Linked DNA regions of Homo sapiens. The protein of the gene in region 2 interacts with the protein of the main gene of each other region in a pairwise test. Each region holds a gene or a part of one and is shown on either strand. Other genes may lie near its edges.

Evidence for each region. Proteins that work in one complex are often made in the same cells at the same time.
Region 1: the proteins of EPS8 (region 2) and SLC27A4 interact in a two-hybrid assay, tested with the Homo sapiens proteins (one large-scale study listed by BioGRID and IntAct).

What each region holds. Positions count from the first base shown.
Region 1 is NC_000009.12:128,357,024-128,360,985, forward strand, and holds part of SLC27A4 (long-chain fatty acid transport protein 4), read left to right. Parts: intron 1-3,310; coding exon 3,311-3,468; 3' UTR 3,469-3,962. UniProt on the Homo sapiens protein: Mediates the levels of long-chain fatty acids (LCFA) in the cell by facilitating their transport across cell membranes. Appears to be the principal fatty acid transporter in small intestinal enterocytes.
Region 2 is NC_000012.12:15,778,189-15,783,428, reverse strand, and holds part of EPS8 (epidermal growth factor receptor kinase substrate 8), read left to right. Parts: intron 1-5,240. UniProt on the Homo sapiens protein: Signaling adapter that controls various cellular protrusions by regulating actin cytoskeleton dynamics and architecture. Depending on its association with other signal transducers, can regulate different processes.

The sequences.
Region 1 (3,962 bases), on a different chromosome or scaffold from region 2:
GTGGAGGTTGTAGTAAGCTGAGATCACGCCACTGCACTCCAGCTTGGGCTACAGAGTGAGACTCCGTCTCAAAAAAAAAAAAAAAAAAATTAGCCAGGCATGGTGGTGGGCGCCTGTAATCCCAGCTACTTGGGAGGCTGAGGCATGAGAAGCACTTGAACCTGGGAGGTGGAGGTTGCAGTAAACCGAGACCGTGCCACTGCACTCCAGCCTGGGAGACAGAGTGAGACTCTGTCTCAAAAAAAAAAAAAAAAAAAAATTAGCCGGGCGTGGTGGTACATACCTGTAATCCAGCGACTCGGGAGGCTGAGACAGGAGAATTGCTTGAACCCAGGAGACCCAGGAGCCACAGGTTGCAGTGAGCTGAGATCATGCCACTACACTCCAGCCTGGGCGACAGAGTGAGACTCTGTCTCAAAAAAAAAGCATCTTAGCAGGTGGGAACCTGGTCAGACTCATGCTCTACAAAGCTCTCTGGCTGCTGTGTACGGAGTGGGAGAGGATTGCAGGCAGCCCTGAGGGAGCTGGGAGACGAGGGAGGGGCTGTTGCAGTTGTCCAGGTGGGAGGTGGGCAGCGGGCCCGCAGTCGCCCACAAGGCAGCACCATCTTTCTATCTGTTGGCCCATTGGTGGCTCTCAAGAGTTCCCTGGTGGGCAGGAAATGCTGAGGCTCATGCCCATACCTGCCCCTGCTTTCCTCAGCCCTTGGTGCCTCTTCTGGGCCCTCCCTGGCTGCTCACCCTTTGGAGCACATTTCCCTGGCCACCTCCCACGTTGTCGTCATATCAGTCCTGCCTTGATGGTGGGCACTCCCTAGCCAATGTGGCTTCTGCCAGAGAGTGGGTACCTGGAGTGCCTAAAGCATCGGGGAGGGTTTAGGACTTCAGTGTGGTTCTGAAGGTTGGAGACACTGTGGCCAGGCTAATGGCCAAGACCATGAGCTTCCGGAGGATTGAGCAGCACCATACTTCTGTCCAGGAAAGGCAGGGAGGCTCTCAGACCTTGTATTTCAGATGGGCTTTGCTGCAGAACAAACCACCCCCAAACTTACTTGCCCCAAAATGGCTCGAAACAACCAGTTTATTGATGCATAATTCTGTGGGTAAGCAATTTAGGGGTTAAGTGCAGCTGAGCAGTTCTTCTATTGACCTTGCTTTGGGGTCATCACTTAGTAACTTAGCTGGGGCAAGAGGCAGTTAGATGGCCTCACCCACGTGTCTGGCTCTCGGCTGCTTACCTCTGCAGCACTGTCCAACAGAACTTTCTGCAGCGATGGAAATGTTCTAGGTTTCTGCTGTCCAACACAGTAGCCACTAGCCTGGCAGAGCTACTGAGCACTTGAAAGGTGGCTGCTGGCTGGACGCCGTGGCTCACGCCTGTAATCCCAACACTTTGGGATTAAATTTTGTTTAATTAACTTAAATTTATTTATTTATTTGAGATGGAGTCTTGCTCTATCGCCCAGGCCGGAGTGCAGTGGTGCAATCTCAGCTCACTGCAACCTTTGCCTCCTGGGTTCAAGTGATTCTCCTGTCTCAGCGTCCCCAGTAGCTGGGATTACAGGCACGTGCCACCACACCTGGCTAATTTTTGTATTTTTTTTATTAGACATGGGGTTTTGCCATGTTGGCCAGGCTGGTCTCGAACTCCTGACCTCAGGTGATCCGCCCACCCTGGCCTCCCAAAGTGCCGGGATTACAGGCGTGAGCCACCATGCCTGGCCTTGTTTAATAATTTAAATGTAAATAGCCACATGAGGTCATATTGGACGGCGCCGGTCTGGGCCCTCACCTGGGATGGCTCATCTCTGCTCCACGTGGCCTCTCACCCTTTGGAAGGCTAGACTAGCCCCAGGGCACCCCCAAGCAGGTAGAGGTGGAAGATGCAAGGTCCCCCGAGGCCTAGACTCACCCAGAACTCCTACAACATTGCTTTTGCCACCTTCTGTTGGTTAAAGCAAGTTGTAAAGCCAGTCCAGATTGAGGCCAATGGAGATTGAAAAAGTCGAGCTCTTGCCAGGAGAAGTGCCAAAGCCACATAGCAGAGGTGTGTGTGTACAGGGAGGGGAGGAATCTGCAGCCATTTTTGGTAGTCTGTCTCATCCAGGTTCCAATCCCAGTTCTACCACCCTGAGCATCAGTCTTCTCATCTGTACAGGATTAATACCATTGATTGAAAGATGCGGCCAGGCGTGGCAGCTCATGTTTGTAATCCTAGCACTTTGGGAGGCTGAGGCAGGTAGCTCGCTTGAGCCCAGGAGTTCAAGATCTGGGTGGGCAACATGGCGAAACCCCATCTCTACAAGAAATACAAAACTTGGCCAGGCGCAGTGGCCCACGCCTGTAATCCCAGCACTTTGGGAGGTCGAGGAGGGTGGATCATCTGAGATCAGGAGTTCGAGACCAGCCTGACCAACATGGTGAAACCCCGTCTCTACTAAAAATACAAAAAATTAGCTGGGCGTGGTGGTGGGTGCCTGTAATCCCAGCTACTTGGGAGGCTGAGGCAGGAGAATCGCCTGAACCCGGGAGGCCGAGGTTGCAGTGAGCCAAGATCGTGCCACTGCATTCCAGCCCCGGTGACAGTGCAGGACTCCGTCTCCAATAAAGAAAGAAAGAAAGAATTACAAAACTTAGCCAGGCACAGTGGTGCACACCTATAGTCCTGGCTACTTGGGAGGCTGAGGTAGGAGGATCACTTGAGGTCGGCAGGTGGAGGTTGCAGTGAGTTGAGATGGCATCACTTCACTCCAGCCTGGGTGATAGAGTGAGACCCTGTCTCAATAAAAAAGAAAAAAATACCATGAATTTTTTATGTACGAGTAAGAAAATATGTGCTGCTAATTATACTAGTTCAGAGATGTTAAAATCTGCAAGCACGTCCGTGTTAGAATCCAGAGAATACGGTTGAGCACCTGCCTTATGGGGCTGATGTACAGATGAAATAAGCTCACACTGTTACCTGGTAGGTACTCAAAGGGAGACATCACAGTCAGAAGACCTCCGTTCTGGTCCCCACTCTGCTGTCACTCAGCATGTGACACTAGGCAAATAGCCTCCCTTCTCCAGGCCTGTTTTCCCATCTGCAAAGTAGGGGTGGGTGGGTAACTAGCAGCTGTCCCCATGCCCCAACTTTGCCACAGCTGCTGTATGACCATTCTTTGCAAACTGTAAAGGGCTGTGCCTCCTCCCCCACTTCCCTCCCCTGTTTGTCCTCCAGCCCTGCTCCCTGCCTTCCTCAGTACTGGTGGTTGGGAAGCTGGGAGCTCGGGCCCCTGCCCTGCACTGAGTCTTCTTCCCTGCTCTCCCAGGAACCTACAAGTTCCAGAAGACAGAGCTACGGAAGGAGGGCTTTGACCCGGCTATTGTGAAAGACCCGCTGTTCTATCTAGATGCCCAGAAGGGCCGCTACGTCCCGCTGGACCAAGAGGCCTACAGCCGCATCCAGGCAGGCGAGGAGAAGCTGTGATTCCCCCCATCCCTCTGAGGGCCGGCGGATGCTGGATCCGGAGCCCCAGGTTCCGCCCCAGAGCGGTCCTGGACAAGGCCAGACCAAAGCAAGCAGGGCCTGGCACCTCCATCCTGAGGTGCTGCCCCTCCATCCAAAACTGCCAAGTGACTCATTGCCTTCCCAACCCTTCCAGAGGCTTTCTGTGAAAGTCTCATGTCCAAGTTCCGTCTTCTGGGCTGGGCAGGCCCTCTGGTTCCCAGGCTGAGACTGACGGGTTTTCTCAGGATGATGTCTTGGGTGAGGGTAGGGAGAGGACAAGGGGTCACCGAGCCCTTCCCAGAGAGCAGGGAGCTTATAAATGGAACCAGAGCAGAAGTCCCCAGACTCAGGAAGTCAACAGAGTGGGCAGGGACAGTGGTAGCATCCATCTGGTGGCCAAAGAGAATCGTAGCCCCAGAGCTGCCCAAGTTCACTGGGCTCCACCCCCACCTCCAGGAGGGGAGGAGAGGACC
Region 2 (5,240 bases):
ACTGACCCCTGCACAGTCAGAAATTTTTGTATAATTTTTGACTTCCCAAAAACTTAACTAGTAACCCTTCTGTTGACTGGAAGCCTTACTGATAACACAGTCTGTTAACACACATTTTGTATATTATATGTATATTACATTGTATTCTTACAATAAACTACAGAAAAGAAAATTTTATTAGGAAAACCATAAGGGAGAGAAAATCCAGTACTGTATTGTACTTATTGATATTGTAAGTTTTTGTTTGCTTACCAGATGACTCCTCTTTCTGAAAAGGTGGGGGAATGGAGGGGCAGGGCTGGGAACTGCAGCTGCAGACCTCAATCTATGGTACATACCAAGCAATTCAACTTTATCTCTCATAATGTCATGACTTTTCTCTGTTTCTTGGGAGCATTTCTGGCATCTCTAGTGGCACGTTTTCATTCAAGGTTTATGGTATTGTACCAAACAGGATGAAAAATACAAGAGAACACCAAGAAATCATTTTTTACTGTGATACACAATTTACCGGAGAGATGAACTGCTCACGCAGAGATGATTAACATCACACAGTGGACTAAGCGGTTACTCACAACACTTGAGCTCGCTGCAATAACAACAGGAGGTGGCTATGAAATTATTACAGTAGTACAGTATGTACTACAGTTAATTGTATGCAGTTAGGACTTAATACTGCATCTTTACATTTGTTTACATTTCTCTTGACCGCGAATGATACTATGTATCGTGTGTGTGTAAGTTTTGATAAATTTTAATTTTTTCTAATAAATTTTATGGTTACTACCATAAAATGATAAAGTAGACTAGTATTTATATACATATTATGCATTCATGACATACCTAACTTTTTTCTTAATGTTTTTGTTATCCTGGCTACGTGGTTTGTCTGTGTTTTTATTGTATTTATTTATTTAAAAAAATTTTTTGAGACAGAGTCTCACTGTCACCCAGGCTGGAGTGCAGTGGCGCCATCTTGGGCCTACTGCAGCCTCAACCACCCAGGCCCAGGTGATCCTCCCCATTCAGCCTTCTGAATAGCTGGAACCATAGGCATGTATCACCAGGCCTGGCTAATTTATTTTTATTTTTATTTTTTGCAGAGACAGGATCTCTCTGTGTTGTCCAGGATGGTTTTGAACTCCCAGGCACAAGCAGTTCTTCCAAGTTGGCCTCCCAAAGTGCTGGTATTACAGGCATGAGCCACCACACCCAGCCCGAGTGTTTTTAAATTGTCACAAATCTCCAAAAATTTTTCCAAATATATTTATTGAAAAAAATCTGTGTATAAGTGGACCCATGTAGTTCAAACCTGGCTTTTCAAAAGTCAAATGTACCTCTCTTTTGGTATACATTTTGTGTTATTGATATTGTGATGTACTATAGTTTACATATTTGTCCTCTCCAAAACTCATGTTGAAATTTCATCCTCAATGTGAGAGTGTTGAGAGGTGAGGCCTTTAAGAAGTGATTGATCCATTCATGAATTAATGGATTAAGGGGTTATCATGGGAGTGGGACTGGTGGCTTTGTAAGAAAAGGAAGAGAGACTTGAGTGAGCACATGAGCACACTCAGCCCCCTTGCCCTGTGATGCTCTCTGTTGTCCTGGGATTCTTGGAGAGTCCCCACCAGCAAGGAGGCTCTTAGCAGATGTAGCCCCTCGACCATGGACTTCTTAACCTCCATAACTGTAAGACATAAATTCCTTTTCTTTAGAATTACCCATTTCAGGTATTCTGTTATAAGCAACAGAAAACAGAGTAGGACAGGATTAGAAATATTTATAATGTTGCACTAAAGTTAGAACCAGTAGTCTTCAAGAAGCAGGTGGAGCAGCTCACATAATAATAGTACCTTTTGTGTGGCAGGTGTTACATACATTATCTTCTTTCACTGTTACAAGAGCCCTTTAAGGCATGCTTCTTTATCTCAGAATTACAGATAAAGGAATAGGCCCAGAAAGAAAAAGTGACTTGTGTCACACATGGGGAGAAAGGGACCGAATTGGGATGAGAACCCTGACCTGACTCCAAAATCCATGCCCTTTCCACTTGGTTGTGCTGCCCTTATTAAAGAAAAAGGGCAAGGATGGCCAGAGTGTCCTTAATTACATTCTTTTATTTAATACTGTGCTATATACTTGCTCAAATTACTACTGTGCCAAACAAGAATAGCGAAAAAGTTTGTGTATTTAAGCTCCACAAAGATTCTTCTAGCTTTGTTTTCTGTTGACTCATCTGTATCCTACTGACCAGAGGTATGTGGTGATGGAACACGGTTGTTTTAAAGAATGAGGATCTTTTAAAAAGAAACATTTGTGGGGAATTAGACAAAATAAAGCAAATAATGGTAGCATTAGCTAGTTATTTCTTTCTTTCCCTCATTGTATTTAAAGCTTCTCAAGGGCAGGGAACTGAGTCAGTTAAGTTCCCTGATGTATTTAAGGCCAACATATGACCATATGTGTCAGCCATATGACACACTCACAAAAGGCTTGCTGAATGAAATTAGCACTTATTATCATATTTTTACATAAATACTTAAAAGGGCATGAGTTTTCCTCACATAGGAAGTTGAGCATTACTACATTTCATTTGTTTATTCATTCATCTTTTATCGAGTGTTTGTTGAGTATCTGTTCTGTGCCAGACACCAGGAATACAAAGATGAGTAAGACAGGATCTCTGCCTTTTGTTGTCAGAAGGCTCAGAGAATGGAGGCAGCCAGACACCCGTTTTAGTACAGTGTGGAGCTGAAGGAAGTATATATTAAAAAACAAACAAACAATGGACTTTGGAATCAGACCTTATCTGCCTTGGTTTTCTTATCAAAGAGGTGGAAATGTCAAGTAGGTACTATTATCCATGGAGGATGTTAAATGAAAAGTGTGTATGCCTGTGTGTGTGTGTGTGTGTGTGTGTGTGTGTGTGTGTGTGTGTGTGTGTTTATCCCAGCACATAGCAGAAAGGAGAGCCTCACTGTGGCCGAGGGAGTCAGAAAAGTCTTTACTGGGGAAGGTGATGTTTGAGTCTCATAGAATGAATTTTTGAGGCAAAGCGAGACGCTCATCTCTCTCCAGGTAGAAAGATGAGCATGTTTGACATGTGCGGAATAGGTTGGCATGATGGGAGTGGTGGGAAATTCTGCACATTCCCACATTCAGAGCTTACGGGAGTATTAGAAAGAACTGAATGAGCAGTTATTTTTCATTTTTGTAAGTAACAATACAATAGAGTATTCATTACATTGTAGCAGAAGAGAATAAAGATACCAAACCTGTTTAAGAATTGCATAAATCTTCTCTTCTAGTCACATGGCCTTCTAAATGTAGCTCTTTATGTAGCAAACAAATTCATGTGTTCTTTTTCAGTCCTGTGATACTCAAGTGATTATATGGAATTTAAGAAAGAGAACTTGCATGTTTTTGGGTGAAATTGGAGGTCCTGTTTCAAACCATTCTTACATTTAGTAGCATAGCAACAAAAGAATGTAATAATCTATGAAGCCAGATCTAGTCCTGTTTAAGCCTGTCTAAAATTCTAAGCCATAGTTTCTGAACAGAACCTGAAACATACTATTTAGGAATGTACTAAAAAATAACTTGTTAAATGAATTATGTGCTTGATAAGAGATCAGAGTTCTATAATTGAAAAATTGTGTTTTTAATATAAGGGGAGAAGAAAAAGAGAAAGAAAAAATAGTGAGAAAAAAGATTGATAGAAGGAAGAGAAGTTTGTACTTAAATGAGGGAGAAACATTTTTCAAGTCCCTTATTGAGGGCTGTTGAATTATCTTCTGTTAACACCATTAGAATATTACTAAGTTATTCCTTATTATAGAAATACATGTATATTATTGAGATATTTGTTGGTTTAATGCAACAATAGAATGTTTCCAGTATCTGAAGTGGAAAAACAAAGCTGCAAATAAAAATATGTGTAAAATCTGTCTCTTTTGAGAAGACATTGATTACAGTTTATCTAATTTTCTGCAATAATTTTGACATTTAAAGTTGATGGTAATTTTAGACCTGAATGTACAATAAGATGATTTTAAGTGCTCTTTTAGAATTTAAAGAAAGATATACTTTTGATGATAGAGATAGAAGATACTTTTAACTGCTTTGCTAGTGAAAAGTCTGTTACATTTTGCTGGGCAAGGTGGCTCACGCCTGTAATCCCAGCATTTTGGGAAGCCGAGGCAGGCGGATCACCTGAGTTTGGGAGTTCGAGACCAGCCTGACAAACATAGAGACGCCCTGTCTCTACTAAAAATACAAAATTAGCCGGGCTTGGAGGCACATACCTGTAATCCCAGCTACTCGGGAGGCTGAGGCAGGAGAATTGCTTGAACCCGGGAGGCAGGAGGTTGTGGTGAGCCAAGATGGCGCCATTGCACTCCAGCCTGGGCAACAAGAGTGAAACTCCATCTCAAAAAGAAAGAAAGAAAGAAAGAAAAAGTCTGTTACATTTTAAAATCTTGGTTTGCCTTCTTTTTTGGGGACTTGGATTTCTTGAAATTAATTTTGTGAGTAACTTGGTAAATTGATGACTTATTTTCTGCCTGGGCATGCAAACTCTGCATTTGATAGTTTCTTTCATATATGGAAGAAATGAAAACACTACCTTTAAGTAGATTTACTACCTTTATTCCCCCCATAAAGGCATGAACAGCTTGTTTATGTTTATATGCATGCGTACATAATCTCCAATTTCTCTTTGCAGTGTGTTTTCAAAACTTCAACTGTTTTATGACAAACTATATGTGTTTGGGAGTTTACAAATATTATTCTTTAATCCAGGAATGTGAATTTTTGAAACCCTATCTTCAGATTGAGTTGTCCTTACTGTTTTAGTGTTTATCTGTATTCTCAGAACCTCTGTTGCGTGGTCTGTTTTCAAAAAAGTACTGTGTACCATAAACTACAGTGTTTTTGTTTTGTTTTTTGCACATCAAGATCCTTTTAGTCGAGAGAACATTAATTTTGTCAGTAGTTCTTTTATTTAGCTCCTTTGTGGGGCCTTGTTAGATTCTGAATAATTTAATAGCAATGGAATCCTTTCTGTGATAAAAATCTGGTCATTGGTCCAATACTTGTAGCATTATTCACATGATACTCATGCATGCAAAGGTGTGGGATTAATGCGTATGCCTGAAGAGTGTGTGTCAGAGTGTTTTTAATCATTGTTGAAAATCACCCTCTGAAGATTTTCGTGTGCATTAATTCTCAGATTTGCT